2 linked regions of the Homo sapiens genome follow. The protein of the gene in region 1 interacts with the protein of each later gene in a pairwise test. Each region holds a gene or a part of one and is shown on either strand. Other genes may lie near its edges. The genes, in order: SLC6A15 and SLC41A2.

Region 1 (16,783 bases):
TGTAATAATACAGTATTCAATTTTTTTGCAGATATTTTGATTGTCTATATTATAAATTCTAATGAATCTACAAAAATACCTTCTAGAGTAATAGTCCAAAAAAGTCACAGAATACACGGTAAACATACACAAATCATTTACAGTTCCATATGTTACCAATAAACAAGTGAACACAGAAATTAAAAATGCAATAGCATTTACAATCATTAAACTGACATAATTACACGAAAATGTAACAAAACCTGGATGGTACATTTTTGCTGAAAACTACAAAGTGCTGATAAAGTAAATGAAAGAAGATCTAAATGTATGGGAAGACATGCCATGTTCATGGATTAGAAAACTCAACATAAGAAAGATGTCAAATTTCCCTAAATTGATATATGGTTAAATGAATTCCTATCAAAATATCAGTGACATTTTTCTACAAAGAAGATTATTTCAAAATTTATATGAACAGGCAAAAAATTAGAGGAGCTACAACAATTTTAAACAGAAGAATGAAGTGGGAGGAATGATTCTATCGAATTTTGTGACTTATTATATAGCTACAGTAATGAAGTCTATGTGAGGTTGGTGAAAGGATAGACAAAAATGAATGTAACAGAAGAGGCTACCCAGAAAGAAGTGCACACAATATGCCTAACTAATTTTTGATAAAAGTACCAAAGCAATTTCAATGGAGAAAAAAATAGCTCTTTCAACAAATTGTTCGGGAAATAATTGGACATCCCTAGGCAAAAGTATAACCCTGAACCTAAATCTCATATCTTATACAAAAATTAATTCAAAATGAATTACAAACTTAAGTGGAAAATATAAAACTTTAAGAAACAAGTCATCAGATTAAATCTTTGAGATCTAGGGTTAACCAAAGAGCTCTTAGACATGACAAAAGCAGGATTCAGAAACACAAAAATTGATAAACTAGGCCCCAAAATTTGAAACTTTTGCTATGAGAAAGAATCTATTAAGAGGATGGAAAAAAAAAAGCTTAAAAATGGGAGAATATATTTGAAGGTCACAAATGACTGGTGTTTAGGATATATAAAGAACTCTTAAAACTCGACCGTTGCCAGGCGCGGTGGCTCACGCCTGTAATCCCAGCACTTTGGGAGGCCCAGACGGGTGGATCATGAGGTCAGGAGATTGAGACCATCCTGGCTAACACGGTGAAACCCTGTCTATACTAAAAATACAAAAATTAGCCGGGCGTGGTGGCGGGTACCTGTAGTCCAAGCTACTTGGGAGGCTGAGGCAGGAGAATGGTGTGAACCAGGGAGGCAGAGCTTGCAGTGAGCTGAGATCGCGCCACTGAACTCCAGCCTGGGCCACAGAGGGAGACTCCGTCTCGAAAAAAAACAAAAAACAAAAAAAAACTCGACCATTATAAATAAAATAAGAAAACAGGTAGAGATATTTCAATGAATATTATATATGAATGACAAAGAAGCACAAGAACTGAGGCTCGATATTATTAGCCATTAGGTAAATGCAAATATAAAATACTATGAGATGTTGCTATATTCCTATCAGAATGGCCAAAATATAGTGACAACCAAATTCTGGCAAGGATGCAGAGAAAATGGATCATTTATTCATTACTGGTGAGAATGTAAAATTGTACAAACACTCTGGAAAAGTTCGACTGTTCATTTAAAAACTAAACACACTGCTACCACATAACCGAGCAAGTGTTCTCATTTATCCCAGATAAATGAAAATTTATGTTCCAGAAAAGCCTATGCAGGAATGTCCATAGCAGTTTTATTTACATTAACCCTAAACTAGAAATAATCCAGATGTCATTCAATGGGTAAATAGTTATAAATTCTGGCACATCCATACCATTAACTACTATTTAGCAAAAACTACCAATATACATGACTTAGATGAATCTACAGAAAATTATGCTGAGTGAAAAAACATCAATTCAAATACATTGAATACTGTATGATTACATTTATATAATATTCTTGCAATGACCAAAAAATAAATATGGAGAACAGAGTAGAGATTGCCAGGAGTTAAGGAGAGCCTGGGGACTGGAGTGAAGTGGTTGTGGTTATAAAAGGCCAACACAGTTAATCCTTATGTAATGGAACTCTTTTGTAACTTAACTGTATCAATGTCAATATTCTGATTAGGAAGGTTTAATATAGTTATTACAAAATGTTATATTTGCAGGAAATTTGTCAAGAGCTCACAAGAACTCTCTGTGTTATTTCTTACCAACTACATGGGACTCAACACCCATCTCAAAATTAAGACTTTTTTTAATACCCTAAAATTATGCCTTTTTTGCTAGTATAATTAAATAACTTTATTGAATCAAGTACTAAATATGCTTCTCCAATATAATTTTATTTCTAAAACTCTTGAAAGAGGAAGCTTTCTTGTAAATTCAGAAACAACAACAAAAATCAGGGGGTCGTCAAAATACTCATTGACTTTTGTACCTTACTAATTCCATGGCATGTGATGAATGAATAAAACTCTACCAAAGGTGTTTATTTGCCTCTGTCTTTACTTTAAAATATTTTATATATTTATATTTTGAATACAAAATACTGTAATAAGATATTAAAGGGCAAAGAGTAAAGAAACATATATATATATATATATATATATATCTTCCTACCCTTTCTCCCTAGAATATACTGTACCATCTGTACCTCCCAATAAGTAACCAAAATCTTCAATAAATATTTTCTGTATATTCAAGCATATATATATGTGTGTATACACACTTAAACACTCTATATATATTCAAGCTAATATGTGTTTTCTCCCCACCAGCCCCCAATCTGCTTCTTTTTACACAACTATTACTATGTGCATAATTCTACCTCTTAGTTTTTCACTCTAATAAATTCTTCAAAACTCTTGATCTCAATGTAATAGCTTCATTTAAAAAACTACTGTATGATATTCCTTGGTATGGTATACCATATATTTAGATCATCACTGATAATTTGCTACTACAATGTTCCAACAAATTATTTTGTATATCTTGCATCTCCATATCTGTAGAATAAATTCCTAGAACTGGAACAGCTTGATCAAAAGGTATGAGCTTTTATAATTTTGATAAATATTACCAAATAGCCCTTGATAAAAATTGTGTCCATTTGCACTACCACCAGCAATGCATGAGAGTGCCCGCTTTCTTCTACTGTCTTCTGTATAACAAATAATCTCTTTGATCTTTGCCAATCTGATAGGTGAAAAAGTTCCCAAAGTATGCATTCTATTTAAAAATAAAAGTCAATTCATCTTATGTGAAAAGATACCTTAGCACATTAATCACAAGGAAATAAAGTGACCTTCAAGGCTGAACACAACTTACAGCTCTGCCCTGTGTCAAGTGATACTCTGCATTTGAAATTGCCCTATATCCCAGTTTATTTTTAGGGCTTGTTGTTCACAGAAAAAGAGATGATCATTACTGGTCAAAGTTAATATTTAAGCAGATAAATACATCAAAAATTGTTTAGTAAAGACAGCCAGAAGAGTGGTATGATAAGCAAAGTAGAAATAAATCTAATGATTCCTGCTATGTAACCTTGAATGTTGTTCATGCATCCAACTATGCCTGTAGATTTTTATTAATACTATCTGCTGAGAAACCATTTCAAAATCTACTCTGCACAGCTGCATAAGAATATACTAATATATCCTATCATGCATATGTATGTAGTAATAAAGAATTAACATACTCTTCCACAAGGTGAGAGGTCCATTGAGAAGTGAAAGAAAAGTTTTTAGGAGCTTTTGATAGCCACCAAGCTCTCTTTTGGGTCTGCTATTCTAAGTCAATGATTCAATTTCCTAGATGATATAATCCCAGAGTTAAAAAGAATGCAAATATCTTACCTATTCATATACAAATTATATTTTATGACAAGAGAAGCATATTTACAATTTCAACTATGATCACTGGGTAAGGTAGTAACTATGAATACGGACTTTAGAGTTTAGTAACTATTCTGACTTATTTTAAATGTTTCAGTAGGTGACAAGGAAGGCATCTCATCTGATTATTGGCATCTCTCATAACTGTTATCCAGTTTTAAGATTCTGCATTATTTCATATTTATTCAGTGATAGAGTACTGATCTCCTAGAAACATATAAAAATAACTTTCTTAATTCGATTAAAATACTACATCTCGAGTTAACTATATTAGAATTATAAAATAATTTTTCAATCAACTATATAATGTGCAATCAGAAAAAAGAAAAGCTTATCAACAGTAAAAGATTATCTTTCTTTAAAAATCCTATTAATTCCTGTCATCCTAAAAAAAAACACAAACTGAAAGCTTTATTTAGAGAAAAATGGTTAATAAATTCCATTTTAAATTTGTTGGGATATGTTTTACCACAACAAATACACATGGATCATTGATGATTCCATAGAAAAGGCAACAACACATAAAAATAAAATCGCCTGATTTTGATGGTCAAATATCTTGAATTTAATATGAGAGAAAAAAATACATACTGTTTGTTAGTCCAAACTGCACCATGTTGTAAGCTCCCTGCTATTTTGCAGACCTTGGTGAAAGCGAAACATTTCACAGGGGTTCGAGCTGTGAGAAACATCCCGTCTAACCAACTGACCACGAGTTGGACAAAGGCCTAACTAAAGAGACATCCCTATCATATCTTGCTGGACAAAGGTCCAAGGAACACCCTGAACAACAGAACGACATCGCGCCGGAACAAGAGCCAGAACCGCCTCTTCATGGAAGCATCTTATTAATATCCCGCGGAGCAGCAAGCCATACTGCTCAGACCCCTTCTGCCCGTACCTATAAATGGCCCCAGCCTGTAAGCGGCAGCGGGCTCCGGCATTAGGCTGGTCCTCCACTTCTGTAGGATTTATGCTGGACAGAAAGCCTGAATTTGCTGTTGAGCCGCCCTCTTTCCGTGTGTGTGTGTGTGTGTGTGTGTGTCTTTAACCCTCGCCTTCCCTTCAAAACCTAACACTGTTCAAAGAAGATTTAGTCCATCATTAAGTATTTATTAAGAACGTACAAGTCAAGCCCAGTACTGGGCGCCTAAGACATAAATAGGTCTGTGTTTCAGCAATGATCTTGCAGAAATGAGGTTGGGTGGGTGAGGGGCTTGTTGGGGCTGTGTCTGCACATAATAATTCCTCAAAACAAACACTTTGTTGCTGGCACAGCAGAAAAGCAATCAGGCATTGACAGGTAGAAAATAGCTTTTACAGCATGGGCGATGAGGAGCCCCAAAGCAGCATATAAAGCAAATCCTTCATTTCTCCCATACGTCTTAAGTAGTGAACCGCAAGGATGGTGCAGACTAAGATTGGGTCTACCTATAAGATCTGGAGGGGAAAACGGCAAGACCAGAAGAAACCGTCGCAGACTTATTTGCATAAGCACCCAAACACTGCTTACGTCACTGCGCCGGAGTCCGGACCCCGCCCCGTCTTACTCCAGCCTTTCCCAGCTAGGGAGGAGGATGGAAAGGGAAAGCGGGACGCTGGAGAGCGCGAGCCTGGGGGCTTTGCTTCCTAAAACGCACATCAAAGGCTGCTTCTCAGCTCAGGAAAAATAATTCCCGTTCCCGCAGCCTGTGCCACTGGGTGGGTCATGCCTGTTCCCGAACGCCTCGGGCGTCTTGATTCATTCTTATGTATCCAGTTGGTGCGCTACGTTAGAGTGCAAGGATTTCCCTGTACTCAATACCGTCTTCTTCCCAGTCACACACAGACCAGCCTAGTGAAAGAAAGGTAGAAACGATCTGGGTTTCTAACTGCTTCCCATCTTCTTACAGTCCCAGCAGCACCACCCTCACCGCCACACTCTCAAATTCCAGGATGCGCAGAAACACAGGAGCCGTGATTTCTCCAGCAGCCACGTGCCTTTCGTACGGCGAAAGGCCCCCTTTCGGGCCATTTATCACAGGATACCTCAAGCAAAGGGGAACTGTGGTCACGTGAAAACACTCTGTCCTCGGTAGTCGCCTTCTGCCTTTGCTAAAGCGAACGGAAGCGAATGAGGAATAAAGCTCTCTGCTCTCCCCGCCCCATCGCCCACCTGCACGAGGTTTAGCTTCCAATTCACCTCGCGTCTCTCTCTGCCCCAACCCTCCCAACTTTCCTCTTGGACTTTCCCGTGTTGGACCCCACCCTTCAACCAACCCCGACTTGGCTTGGAAACGAGTAGGTCTCTGGGGATGCTGTGGGCAATTTCCACGACGGGAAGAAAGGATGGCGGCACGTTTCAACCCATGTGCTTCCCCTTACATGTGCAGCCTGTCGCCCCCCACCCTGATTGTACAGAGATGCAGAGTTAGACGGTTGCCCGCCCAGCCCAGCTTCTCCCTCCCAGGGCTTTTGAGCTGCCCTCCCTCCTCCCACCCCAGGACGCAGCGAGTCCTTCCCGGCATCCATCCATCAATTCGTTCCCGGTGCTGGTGCCCAGGCTCCTGGGTGGCTAATGGCGAGCCCCACCTCACCCCCAGTTGTGCCCTTAGCGTAGGCGCTTGCCATTACCGTCAGTGTGTCTTGACCAAGCGCCTCTTGCTGCTTCCACGTCCGGGCAGCAGCAGCAGCAGTCGCGAAAGGGTAGGGTCCAGGTGGCTGTGACGGAGGCCGAAGAGGAGCTGTTGGCAGAGAAGCAGCTTCTTGCCTAGGTTGGGACCCGGAGCTGGGTTTTGGGGGTCGCCGCCCTGCAGGCTGGCAAGGAGAGACTCGTGAGCGCCTGTGTGTCTGCCAGGGAAACAGCACGGGATACAGGCGCGCGGGTGCGGGTGCGCGTGTACATGCGTATGTGTGTGTGCGCGCGCGCGTGTGTGTATGTGTGAGGGTGTGACGGAGGCGCCCACGTGCTCGGCCCGCCCGTGTTACGGCCGCCTACCGGCTGCAGAGGAGAAGGGTAGGCTGTGGGCGGCGGCGGGGCGCGGAGGGGTAGCCAGGAGCGCAGGCTGGGCTCCGCACCTCCCTGCCCCAAAACCCATTGATGCAGCGGCCACTGCGGCTGCCGAGCGGCGTCTTCCCAGAGCCCGGGGCTGTGCCCGCCCGATGCAGGATGCAACTGAGGAAGCCCGCTCCAAAGCAAAACAAAACAAATTCCTCCAGCCATGCCGTCTTTCTCCAACCCACTCAAGCGAAAGAATGGACACCAGTTACCAGCCGCTGACTTTTGTCTCAGTGAGAATAATAATAGGCATGGTGCTACCTGGCACCATCTGAATATTCTCCAAGAGTCAGTAATGGGACTAGAAAAAATGGGTGACCCAAAGAACCCTTTTCCCTACCTATTCCCCCAAGCCGGCCATTTACATCTCTTGCGAAAGAAAAAGCCTCTGGGCATTGGCTTCTCCGTCAGGCGGTGGCCTCATAGCGCTCAGTGATTCTCGCCAGGTTATGAAAGGCCGTTTTAGAAAGCTGGCCCTCACCCACCCTGTGTTGGTGCCTCAGCAGCAGACTTTTTTCCAAGGGGTCTCATTACAAGATGAAGCCTGACTTACCTCTGCTAACAATCAAGGCATGCTCGTAATTAAGCCACGTGGAGAATTCCTAAAATATACACCTCTGAACACAAAGCTTAGCCTCCTTTTGAAAATGGCTGAACCGTCCCCTAAACAGTGCGTATGCTCTAAGGATGAAATTTTCCGTCCTTGAAACGTTCAAAATTTGAAAGAAATACAAAATGAACCTAGAAGCTAGGTAGAAAGGTTCAGTAATTTAGCAAAGTTAATTTTTCACTTCCAGATTATTAATATTACTCTTAAAAACTACTTTTGTGCACTTTTAGGCCTTTTAACAATCCCTTAGATTTTTACGGTTCGTATCCAATTAAGATTGAATTAAATTAAAAAGGCCATTGCAAACAGGTTTTTCATGCAGTGAAAAATCTCTTGGAAAGAAATCACAAGACCTAAATTTCAGGTCAGAACATTGCTACTAATCCTTAGCTTTTAAAACAGCCAAGAGAGTTTTTTCTCAGCCTCTCTTCCAATCCCAACTTTGAAAAATTAAAAGTTAAGAAATTAAATTAGATTTGATTCCCTGATACGCCTCCCCTGCCATGAGTAAATAAATGCTCTTTGATAGATGCGCCACGTGAAAAAATAAAAACAGTCAAAATAAACCTTTTATAGGACTTTTTTTGCTTTTTACTTCACATTTTGGTGACAGGCAAATATTTAATGTTGATATATAAAGAAACTGAAATACAGTACCAACATTATCAATAACAACTGAGAAAATTTTAGGAAAATAAGGAGAGCTGTGTCCACCATGATCAGGATTAGGATTATCTGTGGGAAACAAAGTTATCCATATGCTGGCAGAAATCGTTTACGGTAGTACCAAGAAGTACGAAAATTATTTCTCTCCCACGCTTTTTCACTAGTGTCTGATACCTAATTCCAATACATATGCATAGGTCACAAAATATTTGTAGAGCGATGCCCTCCATAATGACTGATACTAATTTATGTCTCAATGCCAATGAAGAGAAGTAGGAGAAAGCAACTATTGTTTTAAGCTTCCCACTAAGTACCTGGGGCTTAATAATATCTTATTTAATCCTCTCAACTAATTAATGAGGTGATTTTTCCTAATTTAGAGATTAGAGAGAGGTGATACTCAAAAAAAATTGCAAAAAGTCAGAAAACTTGTTCAATGACAGAATGGAGAAATAAATTCAGATATGCTGGCCTCAAACTTCATGTGCTTTTATACTATCCTGTAACCCTTTAACAAATTATCTATTTTAACAGGAGGAAAGGGTGGAATCTCAACACAAGTGGTAGGCAACTTTGAAAACAATAAATAGATGAAGAATGGAGAGACCTCAAAAGGAGAGTCTGGGAACCCTAGCCAAAGGTAAAATGTATTCATTTTTAAAATTTAACAACAATGAGTCTTCAAAGATTTAAAATTCAATTGCTAATATATTTTAGGGTAATGATTACAGAGTTCTTTCTCTGTCACCATAGGGCAAAATGGCCAACATGGGATTGGTGTGGGAGGAAGAGGCAGCACACAGAAAGGAAAAAAACAGAACTTGGAAGAATTAACTACAAGTTAAGGGAGACTAGTGCTTCCAGCCACACTGTATTTAATAATATTAACAAGGATTGATTAATGTTAACTATGTGTCTTTGCAATGTACAGAATAATTTCTATATTTTATGAATATATACTTCTTAATTCTTACACCAAGCCTGTGATGTAGGTCTAGTTTTTACAAAACATTGCCAGAAAAGAAACTGAAGCTTTGATTGTCCAAGGTCATACCGTCAAAAGGCATCTGTTAGATATTGTAAAAATAAAAACCTGCCCTATCTAAATCACTTTCTGAAATTGATACCTACTTTTAAGCAATTAATGTTACACTTATTATTTTTAAAATTTGATAAAAGATCACATGAAGGAAAAGAGTATTCTCTTTGACTAGAGGAGAGAAGGAATCTGACTCACCAAGCCTTTCTACCTTATTTCTTAAACCAAATCCTTTAGAATAACAATATTATGTAAAAACTTCCAAAGATGTAGCACTAGAGTTCAGAAAAATAATTCAAACATTTACTAAAAGATGATTTTAAAACTACAATACTAAAGAAAAACATTGAAATCAATTCACATCCTAAGATTACATTAATTCATTTGCTTATATTGCTATATGGGCAGTAGAGTATATTGTGAGGATTTTTTTTTTGCATTTTAATAAAACTTTTTATTCTAACGTCCTCCATGCCAAATGTCATTTGATATATGGTCTCCAAATTTTTATGAAAACAAAGTCTGCACAAGCCCAAAATATCCACTGAATATTCTGTTCTATTCATACTACTGATGAAGAACTGAGAGGTAGATGCAAGGAAAGTAGGTTCTCTGATTTCTCAGTGGGTAGAGGATGGGTTAACTGAATTGGCAAATGTCAAAGTAATCAAATCAATTTTTTAACTAATTGACTAAGATAGTAAAGCAATCAAGACAATGTAGGAAATGATTGAATTTTACTGTTTCTGCACTTTGAAGATAAAGCCTAAATGGCCCTGGCGAGTAAAAATACCAACACAAGCTGTCATTTTTTTGACAGAGAAATGCACCCCCTACCTCTGTAAACTGATTATAACCACTAAGTTTTTAAGTTGCCCTTTTATTATAATGTTTAATATAATAGCAAACTATGTCTCTAAAACATTTTATGTGTGTCAGGTACTATGCTCAGCATTAGTCTATATAGCTACTTAAATATCCGAAACCAAAATATTTAATGGTATTTGTTTTGTATAAAGTATATGAGGTGCCTTTTATTTGCTGCACAATCTCATTGGTATATACAGATTCTATAGGCTCCATGATTTTTATACGTACTTCTAAAATATAATTTGAATACAAAAGTGATACTTGCTCATTGAATACATTTCAATCTATGAACTTGTACATGGTGAAAAGACCCCTGTGTTTATGTTCCCCTGACTTTGAGGAGGGTCCCAGGAAAGAGGGTAGAGTTAGATTTTAAATAGAGTGGTCAGGGTAGGTCTCATTGAGATTTTACTGGTGCAAGGACACGAAGGATTTGCAGGAGTTAGCCTTGTAGATATAAGGAGATAGGAGTAAGTTCCAGGTAGAGGTCAGTGAAAAGGGTCTTTTCAGTCAGTTTAAAAAGATTGTAGGATCAGTGAATAGACCCTAAAAAAAGAATTTAACTGATATGTTTGAGGAAGAGAAAGAAGACCCAGATATTGCAAATATGTCTTACTCCGTAGAGACAAGCTTATGGTTTTTACAATTTAATTTATTTTATAAAATTCATATTCATAGATTTTCTGTTATTGAACCATGCTTGCATCCCTGGAATAAATCCTACTTGATTATGAGATACTATTCTTCTTTATATAAATTGATGGACCCAATTTTTTCATATTTTTATAGAGTTTTTCATCTATACACATAAATGTATTTGATAAGTGATTTATATTCTCCTTATAAGGTTATTCTAGCACTGTAAAATGAGATCCAAAGCTTACACTTCTAGTCTCTCAAATACCCTTTTATGATATAGACATTGTTTCTTACTCACCTGAGAAATCAAGGAAAGTAGGAAAGTGGTAAGATAAAGATTTCTTATTTATGCTTTTTTTTTTTTCTTTTGAGACAGGGCCTGGCTCTGTCATCCAGACTGGAATGCAGTGTTGGAGTCACAGCTCACTGCAGCCTCAACCTCTCAGGCTCAAGTGAACCTCCCACCCCAGCTTCCCAGGTAGCCGAGACTACAGGTGCATGCCACCATGCCCAGTTAATTTTTTCATGTTTATTTATTATTATTTATTATTATTATTTTTTGAGACAGAGTCTCGTTCTGTCACCCAGGCTAGAGTGCAGTGACGCGATCTCGGCTCACTGTAACCTTCGCCTCCCGGGTTCATGCAGTTCTCCTGCCTCAGCCTCCCGAGTAGCTGGGATTACACATCACCATGCCTGACTAATTTTTTTGTATTTTCAGTAGAGACGGGGTTTCACTATATTGCCCAGACTGGTCTCAAACTCCTGACCTCATGATCTGCCTGCCTCGGCCTCCCAAAGTGCTGGGATTACAGGTGTGAGCCACCGCACCCGGCCTAATATTTATTTTTCTAGAGACAGGGTCTCACCATGTTGCCCAGGTTGGTCTTCAACTCCTGTGCTCAAGCAATCCTTCCATCTTGGCCTCTAAATATACCAAGATTACAGTTGTGAACCACAGTACCCAGCAATATGTTTTATTATTTATTGAGTTTTTCTATTGGTCTATTCAAGTTAACTAGTTCTTCTCGAGTAAATGAGTAAATGTTGGCAATTCATTTCTTTTAAAGTGTTCATTTCACCTAATTTTTAAAAGTGCTTCAATAATTTTTGTACTATTTTCTTTTGAATTTTAAATCCTAGATTACATTTATAGATATATGAACTTCTCCATAGGTTTTGTTTCAACCTTTTCTTCATATCTCTTTCAATCTGTTAAATGCTAAACATTATCTATGAGTCTTTTCAAAGAAACAACTATTGATATTATTGGTGTTATAATTTTTTATTTTCTGTAAATTTCTTTTCTTGTGTTATTTATATATTTCTCCTACTTTCTTTGAGTTCAGTCTTTTCCTAGGTTTTGAATTTGAACAAATATAGTACATTTTAATTTCTACATTGCTTCAAGGTTATAATTTATTTTATAAGCATAGCTTTAGCTGCAACCTAAACATTTTGGTTATATAATACTTTAAGTGTTCATTTAAAATAATTTCAGGAGCCTCTCTGAACCTATTCTGGCTTGAAGAGGCCGCCCTAAAAATAATAACCATAATTTCAATTCTTATTTGCTTAATTTATGAGCATATTTTAAACTTTTTTACTGTTTATTACTTATAGTTACATTTAAGTCATAAAACTTAATATTTGTGATATCAATTCTGTTGGATTTGTTGAGACATTCTTTGTGGCCTAGTACTTGTTCACTTTCATTTACATTATCTATGTTGTTTTCCAGAGTATGTATGTTTTATTTGTTAAATCCAGCTTATTAATTGTGGATTTCAAATCTTCAAATATGCGGCATAGACCTTTAAGACACATATGATTGCATAATCCTATTCCAACTGGATTTAGTTTTTTATTTGTTTGTTTGTTTTGAAAAGGATTTTTGCTCTTGTTGCCCAGGCTGGAGTGCAATGGCGCGATTTCAGCTCACTGCAACCTTCGCCCCCCGGTTTCAAGCAATTCTCCTGTCTCAGCCTCCTGAGTAGCTGGGATTATGGGCATATGCCACCACACCCGGCTAATTTTGTATTTTCAGTAGAGAAAGGGTTTCACCATGTGGGTCAGGCTGGTTTCGAACTCCTGATCTCAGGTGATCCTCCCGCCTCAGGCTCCCAAAGTGCTGGGATTACAGGCATGAGCCACCATGCCTGGCCTAGATTTAGTTTTTTTAAAAAAATTTTAGATTAAAAAAAAATGTGGGATGTTGGTTTGTTTTCTTTCTTTTTCTTTTTCCTCCTCCTCCTCCTCTTCCTCCTTCTTTGTCTTCCCCTTCCCTTCCTTCTCCATCTACTTCTCCTTCTTCTCCTTCTCCTTATTCTCCTTCTCCTCCTTCTTTGACTTCTATACCTCCCAGGGAAGACTTTGGCTATGTTGGGTCACTTTCCTACACCTGAGCCAACCAAGGTGGCTTCAGAAATGAAGTTCGTTTTTCCATATGATCAGAGTGGCATAAACTTCTCCCAATGAAAGAAAGCACTATTAACAGAAAAACAGCAAAAGGGAAAAAAAATTTTAAACACTCAAAAACATGAACAAATAAAATATCTCCTACACTTCATGTATGAAAATACATTCTACAGGGAGTATAGCTACCTTGGATACTAGGAACTGAAGAGTTTGAGTCATTGAGAAAAAGTTTGATGGTCTAGCATATAATTAAATGGTGATGTTTGGGCCTGGCTTTCTCAGCTGTTGGTGGAATCGTGAGTCATGAGAACTCAAATGAATGAAGAGCATCATCCCTGAGTAATGGTGAACTCTGGCCACCCCCCAGTGTTATTTCTGTATCTCATCCTTCCCCCCTCCCCACCACAAGCAATATAATAGGGGTGGACTAGTCTAATAATTTGGTCACTAGTCTAATAATTTGGAAGTTGGCTTTAGACCTAGAGAATTTGGAATTCTCTAGGTGTACAGGGATTTGGCATGCGTAATTTTATGCGGGTAGTAAATATTTACTCCCCCACCTCCCAAATCTGAATTTGACATATGCTAGAACCTCAGTAGGTAAATGCCCTTGGATTATCAGACCACATTCAGCAGTACAGTAGTCTCCCTTTATCCTGGGAGAATATGTTCTAAGACTTTCCATGGATGCTTGAAATCACGAACAGTACCAAACTGGATTGCCAAACAGTTGGAACATGTTTCTTTTAAGGTCTTTTATCCACAAATTTGATGCCTTTTCCATCTTATCTAAGCACTTATTATGCACTGTGGCTGTAACTTTTGCAGTTTGAAGTGCTATGGCAAAACCAGCACAAGTCTATTTTTTTTCACAATGACACAGATAGAAGAATTATTCTTAATGTAAATCTTAGCAACCTCAGCATACGATTGTTTCTTCTTTTCGTATTGAGAGCTTTCATATTTTTATTTTTATTTTTTAATTACTGAGACAGAATCTCATTCTGTTGCCCAGGCTGGAGTGCCTTGGTTCAATTATAGCTCACTGTAGCCTCAAACTCCTGGGCTCAAGCAATTATTCTGCCTCCGTCTCCTGAATAGCTAGCTGGGACTACAGGCCTGCATCACTACTCACAGCCTCACATTTTACTTAAAGAAAGCACTTTACTCCTTTCCTCTGGCATATCCAAATTGCTAGCGTCACTACTCTTGCACTTTGGGGCCATTATGAAGTCAAATAAGGGTGAATTGAACACAAGCATTGCCATCTCATGATATTCTATCTGATAACCAAGGCTGATACTAAGTGACTAATGGGCAGGTAGTGTCTACAGCATGAAGAATCTGGACAAAGGAATGATTCATGTCCTAGGCAGGATGGTGTGGTACAGAACAAGATTTCATCACACTACTCAGAAGGGAGTGCAATTTAAAACTGATAAAACTGTGGGTAAGGGGAGCCACTGTAGCTGCAACTCTTATTTCTATAAATTAACTTAATTTCTAACTCTGAACTCACATACAATTTATCTGCAAAGAAAAAAAAAAGTATACCTCATTCATTCTTAGGGCCTCCTTGCAATCTCCAAGCATCCTCTGTGCCCCCACCTCACTCCTATATTTTTATATCAAGGATTTTGGGACTTCCTATAGGTCCCAGGCAAAAGAGTTGGTATCATCTGATTATTGGGTTATGTATCTGCAGAGATAATCACTAAGATGTCCACTGTCTTTGCTCATATTATTCCTTCAGGTTCTATGGGGTACCACTCTTCCCATTCCAAGTTTGGGACACAAGACTCTGCTAAGGCAGAGTCTAAGTCTATGCTTAGAATTCCCCCCAACCTACAGTTAAACCTTGCTGATTCCCTGTTGCCTCTTTAGCTTAACAGATGCTAATACTAAGCCAGAAGCTATTAGGGTTTATTAATTGCAAGGCAGTTTGCTTGCTATCAAATAAATACCCATGTATACTTCTTCACAGACCCACATATGCTACCATGTGGCCCTCCCTACTCAACCTCAGTATATCTTTACTGAAAAACACATGCCAAAGAACAACACCCAGAGAGCTGGAAACACTGGAAAAGATTTCGTGATGCCCCCAACTTTACTTTATAGGGAAGGTACGTAAGTAAAATCTCATTATAACATCCTCCACAGGGAATTGTCCAATAATTACAATGACAACATTGTAAATTAATAAAATGGTTATGTTAGTCTCTGTTGCATGAGGAACACAAAAATAAACAAAGGCAAAGTTACTCACTGTTAGAGAATAAGAAATAAAGGAGGGAAGCTTGTCGTAGTGAAAAAGGGGCTATGTCATTCATGGGCTTCAAAGTAAGGGGCAGAAGCGGTTTAAATCAAGATCAAATATCTACATTTGGGTTTCAAATATTGCATTTGTAGCTCCTATAGCTTGAGTTTAGTCCCCCAACTAATACTTCGGTGACATTTCTTAGACTCAGTTTTACCACTGCTATGTAGTCTCTTTCCTAACACTAGAGAGATTGTCAGAATCTCATTTACTACTGGCAGGAAAGCCTTTTAATGTAAGCAGATTCTGGAACCACTTTCAGACTCCTTTCCTTAAAGTCACTTCCCGTAGAACCATTCTTGTATGAACATTTTTATTAGTCCTGGTTTGGTCAGCAAAGCAGAGCCACCATAAATGTTACAGGAATAAGATATTTAACATAGGAAATAGGACTTCAAAAATTTGGCAGGAATTAATGTAGGAGAGTAAAATTCTAGAATGCTACAGCCAGAGAATCAAATATTTACCAACAACTTTAGTTTCAAGCAATGTAGCAAGCTGGTTGTATGACCTCCTGAAAATTGTGGCTTCTATTTCTGTCTTCCAAAATACATGCCAATGTATCTTATTGTCAAGCTCTAAAAACCTACAGGGAAGATGATTCTTTGAAATGCACTGCCCACTACACTAGAAGAAAGTAACGGTAGCAAGAAATTGACAACAGCCAATCCAGTAAAGTATTTCCATCTATAACAGAAATTTTTTTCTCATGAGTGTGTGTTTGTGTGTGTGTGTGTGTTATTTTTGTTAGATGTTGTTATTATGGCAATGCTGATTTTTACAAAATGAATTGGAGATATTTTTTGTTTTACCAAATTGTCGAATAGCATGGATGTATCTTCCTGGAAGTATCTCTTCTTTGCAAGATTGAAATAAATTAGCTTGTAAAGCCATCTGGCCTGGTAGTCTTTGGGAGGTAATTCTTTCACATTTTCTCCAAGATCTTCTAAAAAAAATCTGCCTATTTAGTTTTTTCTTCTTTCTCCACAGCCATTTTGGAAATCTTTTCAGAAATCATTACTTCAAGAATATTATTTTATATTGAAAAAAATCAATTTTTCCTGTAAGCTTGTGTTTAGGTTAGTTCAGGTTGCTGTAACAAATTACCATAGACTAGGTGGCTTAAATAACAATCATTTATTTCTCACAGTTCTGGAGGTTGGGAGTTCAAAAGCAAGATGCTGGCAGGTCTACTGTCTGGTGAGGGACTGCTTCCTGGTTTGCAGATAGCTGACTTTTTGCTGTGTCCTCATATGGCAGAGAGCAAAG
Region 2 (7,649 bases), about 20 Mb from region 1:
GTAGAATACACTGGATAATGACGAAAAAAATGTTTATTTCCCCAGGAAGTTGTCCTTTGGCCTAATTTGCTTCCTACATCATTTATACTTACCAGGAATATGAATAGCTTATAAAAATGCCACTCTCAGACTTAAAAAGCACTGCTCCAAAGAACTAAACTCTAATCAGTAAGTCCTAAAAAATATATAAAAACTTAAACCTAAAGGAAAGGAGATCACCCATTCTATCTACATCAATACTATTTAAAGCAAAAAGAATTGCTTTCTCTTATATATACTGACCTCATTTTATCTTTTGTAAAAAAAACCTTGAAGATAAGTATGTTCATCCTTTACAGTTTAGAAAACTGCATCTCAGAGAGGTTAAATAATATGCCCAAAGTTACAACGTTAGTAAGATAAAGACACAGGACTTGAGTTCATGACTTTCTGACTAACCAGTTAATGATAAGGAAGCCCCTGTAGACATTTCTCTGTGTTATAATCCTCTGGCGCCAGTGTACACAGCCATGGGCACAAGGATGATAGAACCAAGGTGTATCATCAGTGTTCCCTCTCAGCTCCTTTCATGCCAAACACTAGAACCCAGTAAACTGGATTCAAGTTATTTTTGAACACAGTTTATTGCTCAAGAATGGAAACAGCTCCTTCACAGGTTTCACCTCTGATCCATAGGTGAACTATCTCTGCACTATCTTCTGTTACTCAATCAATAAATGAACAAATACGGCTGGGCGTGGTGGCTCATGCCTGTAATCAGCACTTTGGGAGGCCGAGGTAGGTGGATCACCTGAGGTCAGGAGTTCGAGACCAGCCTGATCAACATGGAAAAACCCCATCTCTACTAAAAATACAAAATTAGTGGGGCATGGTGGTGGTGCATGCCTGTAATCCCAGCTACTTGGGAGGCTGAGGCAGGAGAATCACTTGAACCCAGGAGGCAGAGGTTGCGGTGAGCCAAGATCACACCATTGCACTCCAGCCTGGGTAACAAAAGCGAAACTCCGTCTCAAATAAATAAATAAATAAGTAAAATAAATGAACAAATATTTTCTGAAGATCCAGAAAAGTAATCATATCATAAATTGCCTTGTTTATAAGTACCAATATAAAAAACAGTGTGGAAGAAATAAGGGAACACTTATAACTTTAGTACCTGCTCCCAGAATGCTCTTACTTTATAACACATTATTTCACTTATTTACATTAAGATCATCCTTTACACAAAGATTTACATACAGATTTACATAAAGATCATCCTTTAATTTTGTAGCTTTTGCTACCAAATTCTGCAAATTATCCACACAGTATTAGACAAAATGTAAGTGTTCACCAACTACAAGTTGAAAGGAGGAATGAACAAAATGATGGTGAGCTAAACTTTTTCTTTTTTTAGACGGAGTTTCGCTCTTGTTGCCCAGGCTGGAGTGCAATGGCACGATCTCAGCTCACCACAACCTCTGCCTCCTGGGTTCAAGCAATTCTCCTGCCTCAGCCTCCTGAGTAGCTGGGATTACAGGCATGTGCCACCACGCCCGGCTAATATTGTATTTTTAGTAAGGACGAGGTTTCTCCACGTTGGTCAGGCTGGCCTCGAACTCCCGACCTCAGGTGATCCGCCTGCCTCAGCCTCCCAAAGTACTGGGATTACAGGTGTGAGCCACTGTGCCTGGCTGGTGCACTGAACCTTTAAGAACAGGTAAGATTTAGAGAAATTGAGGGGAGGTGGGGAGGGGAGAGAAGGAAAAGTGCCTTTCAACAAGGTGAATGGTAATCAGGCAGAAAACTGATGGGAAAATGGGAAGGTATGAGTAGACTATTCAATATGACCAAGCAGCAAAATGAGAAACTTGGGGAAGACATGGAATGCCTGACTATGGGGCTTAGGACTTTGTTTTCTAAATGAGGACAGTTCTAAATGAGGAAGAATAAATAACTTCCATTTATTCATTTATTTTAATTTTGAGACAGGGTCTCTGATATGCTCTGGTTGTGTCCCCACCCAAATCTGATCTTGAATTGTAATCCCCATAATCTCCACGTGTCTAGGAAGAGACCTGGTAGGAGGTGGTTGGATCATGGGGTTGGATTCCCCCACGCTGTTCTCATGATTTTGAGTGAATTCTCATGAGATCTGATGGTTTTATAAGGGACTGTTCTGCCTTCACTCCTCACACTTCTCTCTCTCCTGTTGCCATGTGAAGAAGGTCTTTGCTTCCCCTTCGCCTTCCGCCATGACTGTAAGTTTCCTGAGGCCTCCCCATGTGGAACTGTGAGTCAATTAAACCTCTTTCCTTTATAAATCAGCCAGTCTTGGGTATTTCTTTATAGCACTGTGAGAACGGACTAACACAGTCTCACTACTTTTCCCAGGCTGGTCACGAACTCCTGAACTGAAGCCACCCTACCACCTCAGTCTCCTGAGATAGCTGGGACTACAGGAACTGTGGCTGGCTAAGCCTTTATTTTTAATGCAGAGGAACCCTTTATTTAAATTAAACCCTATGTGAAATCCCAATATATAAAACAGTTTTGTAAAAGCAAAGCAGTACCCATTGAAGCACCCTGGTTTCCACCCACTGGGTCCCCATATTACCCAACTTGAGAAGACCCTGAAACTCCTTCTCGGTTTAAAAACCACTGGATTAGAAAAAGATCTGCAAGGCTAATAACAAAGTGCTCAAAGCATTTACCTCTAAGGAACTGGGTATGCCTAGATTGAGGTGGCTGGGGGAGGGGTAAGCAGTAATAGAAAGCAAGATTGAAATATCATTTTCACTTTTTTTGATTCTACATATTTTTATATTATTTGAACTTTTGTTTGAGTACTTTTTACTTTTTAATTTAAAAAGTAATTAACAGGAAGAAACTATTGCTCTAAAAAAGTATTTTTAATGGTTAAACTTTTTCAAATGGATTCCCATATTTTAGTAAATAATTTCCCTATAGCAGGACATTATTTGGCTAAATTACATTGCAATGAAAATGAATATCTCTGTGCCTAATACTTTCCCATATTTAGAGTTATTTCCTTAGGATAAACTTATACAAGTTAACAGTTTCCATTTAGTTCTACAATGTACTACTTAAATTAAGACTCTGTGGAATATAAAAAGATAAAATTCTCTGAGTGCTTTTTAAAAGCCATCTCATATTAGCAAAATTTGATTTTGGCATTCCAGTTTAAGATACATAAACCCTAACTTAAAAACTAACGAGCAAAATTTTTCACAAATCAAAAATTTAGTAAGATAAATTTGAATCAGAACTGAAATCTCCTTACCTTTTATGAACTGTTCGTAACTTCTTTTACCACTGATCGGAACCAAACACTGAAAGAATTTTTCCTTTATGGTTGGGTTTCACAATTTAATTCTGTGAAGTCATAATACTGTGACAGTAGAATCATGCTCTGGCAACAAACTGACATCATTAAATTCTTATTTGTAAATTCTTTAGGGTATATGGATGTTCTATTTTCATTTGTAAGAACAAAATCTATTTTCTGTTGATTCTTCATTAAGCTCATATGATTGATATATTTTCATCCATTTAGGTTGGTGCAAAAGTAATTGCAGTTTTTGTCATTACTTTTAATTGCAAAAACTGCACTTACTTTTGCACCAACCTAATAATTTATTCCTTTTGTCCTTAGCCATTTTTCTAACACTGCCTTTGGGTGAGTGCTCAGAGAATGCCTCTAAGTTCAAACAAAACAGAAATGATTTCTGGATTGGCTGCTCCTGTGAGCAATCTGTGTCACTGTACTCCCTGGGAAAACATCAAAACCACAATGTTTATTGTTCTTTTTATTATCTCTACTACTGTTTCAATGTAAGAATGCCCTCTGTTAAATTATCTTTTTAATAAATGTATGCAGTTCTATCATTAACATGATTTCAACTGAGAAAAAAAATTTGAATGAAAACTTTTTCTTTGTCCCAAAGCAGACATTACCAGAAACAGCAACGTCATGTCTACTACTGCATAATGTTCCTAATATTAAAGGTATTTAGACTCTATCAACGAAGATTTGCTTAGTCTCTATTGTGAGCCAGGCACTATACTAGTTGCCAGAGACTCAATGTTAAAGGACAGAAGTGAAATCTGTTCTCACAGACCTTTTGGTCTTGGTGCAAAGGTACTTAGGCGAACGAATCTTTATGAACTGGGAAATTCCAATAACAAAAATAGTGGGAAGATTTTTTACAAGAAATAGATTGGAACCAGGTTTTGGAATACCTGTAATGCTGGGCCAATGAATTTGAAGTTTACATCCGAGTTAAGAAAGACCAGGTACCCAAAGAGACCTTTTTCTAAAGATCTCTAATCAGGCCCCGATTAGAACTTTTCAATGATTTGTCATTTCCTCTAAGATAAATCCAACTTCTTTAATAAGGTTAACTAAATCCTGCATAAACACCCCTACTTACCCCTACAATCCAGTAAGTATCTATGAGTGGCACACCCTCATTTTCTATTGTATTCCTTTTAAAAAACATGTGGATTACAACTCACTAATTTGCTTTCACAATCTACTAGTAGGTGCCTGCAGTTAAAGAAAAAAAATGTCACTTTAGTGTACCACATTCTCACACCTCTTGGCCTTTCCACATGTTCTTTTTGCTCAAAACACTTCTGCTCAACCTCACTCTTCCCTTTTACCTAGCTACTTCCTATTCAGCTTAAGATCTCAGCTCTTTAACATCCATGTCCCTGGCCCTCATAGATAAGTTCTCCTTCTTCTGTGGTTCCAAAGCACTCTACACTTAACCAATGCTTATTACGCTTTATCGTAATGGTACTTGTACTAACTGTTTTTCTAGGTTGTAACTCTTAGAGCAAGGACCCATTCTTGTTCACCACTGAATCCCAAAGCCTAGCCCAGTGCCTGTCACGTATTAGACATTCCATAAATATTTAACCAGTACTGGTAAAACAAGGAAATAGACTTGAATAATCTATATATTTAACTACACAATAAAATAATCACTCAAAAGTGTCTAAGAGATTTAGTTATTTCCAAGGAAAATATACAGTCAGTTCATTTTTATAAATGGTGAATTAGTTCCTAGGCTAGCCTACAAAACACTATTTATTTCCCATAACATACTTAACTATGAGAGGATGGCTGTTTACTTCTCTCTGCAATGACAACAGAACTTTCACTCCTCTAAGTAGGAGAAAACAAGATTAAAGGAACACTTTTCTTTCTCTCCACCCCCATCACTAATTCCTCCCACAGGAAAGTGACTTATCTAATTGCTAGGATAGGTATAAAGGTCAACTGTTCAGACAGGCTCCACCCGTGAGCTCTCACTGGCTTTCTTGGACTTGCTGTGCCCTCAAGGAGAGAAAGTTTTCCTTTCCATTCTAACTGCTATAAGATAAGCTCCTTAGGACAGGACTTTCCCTTCCATTTCCTGGTGCAACAGTTTCATCTGGGTAGGTAAATTAAGAAAGAACAGTAAGCATGGGTCTAAGCTCAGTTCTCCAATCCAGCTTTACCGGAAATGAAAATTACACTATTATTTTAATAGTATTTAAATTCTTATCTGGCTTGAGTCTGATCTCAATTTGACTAGAATATGGAGAGAGAAGGGGTGTAACTAGCACACTTGAAAGCTTCAACATGAACAACAGTAATCCCAGTCTGATTTCTGGGTCCTAGGAGAACAGTTAGCATGGAGCAGCAAGGTGGGGCAAAAGGAAAGAGGGATCAAATGAAGGAAAAGGTTTCCACTTTTCCTATTTAGACATTTTTCTTGGGCAAAAATGTCTAAATAAGTCGAATCTGTCTTTATATCCTACAATCTTTCCTTCCAAATTGTTTCATTCTTGCTTTTCTTTTCTCATCTTTCAGATCCCTCATGCTATCTAAAGCTTTCCATTTTTTAACATCCTCACTTTTAGAAGTAGGGCAAACTTTGCCCAATATTCCAAAATGTTCCACGATCTCATAATACTTACATCTACTATCCCTCCTCAAGTCAAAACTCCCACTTCCTTAGTGTAGCTAACCAAGAAGAAAGCAATCTGATTAAATCCATTCACATTAAAATAGAATAACTGACAGTTCTAGTCATTTCCATCTAAATATTTCTGTATTTGTTATTTTTAAGCTAAATAAATCTAACTGCAGTACGTTCAGAGAGAAGAAAAAGTGTCCCTACCCTCATCTACCATAAAGGAGACAGGTCAGCTGTGACCATCACTTCTCAGGGATATCTCCATAGCGATTCCCAATTGTCACTGCCCTCTACTTTCAGTCCTTCCCAATAAGCGCCACTAAAAACCCCAGCGGGCAGAGAAAACATCTGTAGCTGCAGGATATTTGTATATCCATTGGGTAAGTTGGTAACAATCAATATTAGGTTGGATAGTTTATATTTTCAATACGTTTGATAATAATTTCATTAGTTAAAACAAAGTAAAAACACATTTTGGGTTATAAACCCGAAATTACCAGCCTCATTCTTCTAAATAAAGGCAGTGGCATAAAAGGGTTAATTCATATATCCATCATTTTGTAATGTATAGGTTGAAGCAGAGTTAGGCTATGCTTCACATGCTTTTTATCAGTTGCTTATCTATTATTTCCATTTGGAAACCTTTACTTGTATTTTCTATAAAGTTTTGGAAATTGGGAAGTGTACTTTCCAACAATGAGAAAGATTCTTTTCTTGACGAAATTTTACTCAGGCCCCTGAACCTTCTAGGCCCATTTGTGCACTTCCTTGTAAAATGCAGTTTTATCAAAGAACCTCGTCAAGTGAGTTTAGCAACAGCCCCTGACTCTTGGCCCTTGCTTTTTTTTTTTTTTTTTTTTTTTTGAGTTAAGACGAAGTTTTGCTCTGTGCAGTGGCGTGATCTCGGTTCACTGCAACTTCCACCACCTCCTGGGTTCAAGCAATTCTCCTGCCTCAGCCTTCTGAGAAGCTGGGATTACAGGTGCCCGCCAGCACACCAGGCTAATTTTTGTATTTTTAGGAGAGACAGGGTTTCACCATGTTGGCCAGTCTGGTCTCGAACTCCCAACCTCAGGTGATCTGCCCGCCTCAGCCTCCCAAAGTGCTGGGATTACAAGCATGAACCACTGCACCCAGCTGGCCCTCGCTTTCTGATTACCCTCGCTACCTGATTACCCTCACAACCTGATTAGGTTCCTCAGCTTCCACTGTCCCCCAGGTGGTGTCTGATCACTCTGGCCTGTCTTCAGCAAGAATCCTGTTAGGTTGGTTTGGTCTGAATATCCACTACCCCCGGTGTTTCCTCTCAGTACTTTTCTGTCCACTGACCATGACACTGCTCCTTGGCTATAAATTCCCATTTGCCCACACCGTATTCAGAATTGAGCCTAGTCTTCCTCCCAAACTGCAAAATCCCATTCCATGGTCCCTTTACCTATCACAATGGTCCTGAATAGACTTTTTTTTACCACATTTTAACAAGTATCATCGAATAATCTTTTTCTTTAACAACAATCATATTAGATCAGTGGAAAATTGAGTTTGAATTCCTGGGAGGTAACATCAGGTCTTTTTAGTGGTTTTTTTTTTTTTGGCCATGAAAGACCTGATGCTGAATTTGTGTGCGCTCGGAAATTAACCATGAAATAAGCACAGCAGCATTCATTTAGCTGTAAGTGG

What was found.
Region 2: the proteins of SLC6A15 (region 1) and SLC41A2 interact in binary tests that used the Homo sapiens proteins (3 or more experiments, as listed by UniProt).

What each region holds. Positions count from the first base shown.
Region 1 is NC_000012.12:84,905,995-84,922,777, forward strand, and holds the start of SLC6A15 (sodium-dependent neutral amino acid transporter B(0)AT2), read right to left. Parts: upstream 6,806-16,783; 5' UTR 6,529-6,805; intron 1-6,528.
Region 2 is NC_000012.12:104,948,208-104,955,856, forward strand, and holds part of SLC41A2 (solute carrier family 41 member 2), read right to left. Parts: intron 6,783-7,649; exon of another isoform or gene 3,284-6,782; intron 1-3,283. UniProt on the Homo sapiens protein: Acts as a plasma-membrane magnesium transporter. Can also mediate the transport of other divalent metal cations in an order of Ba(2+) > Ni(2+) > Co(2+) > Fe(2+) > Mn(2+).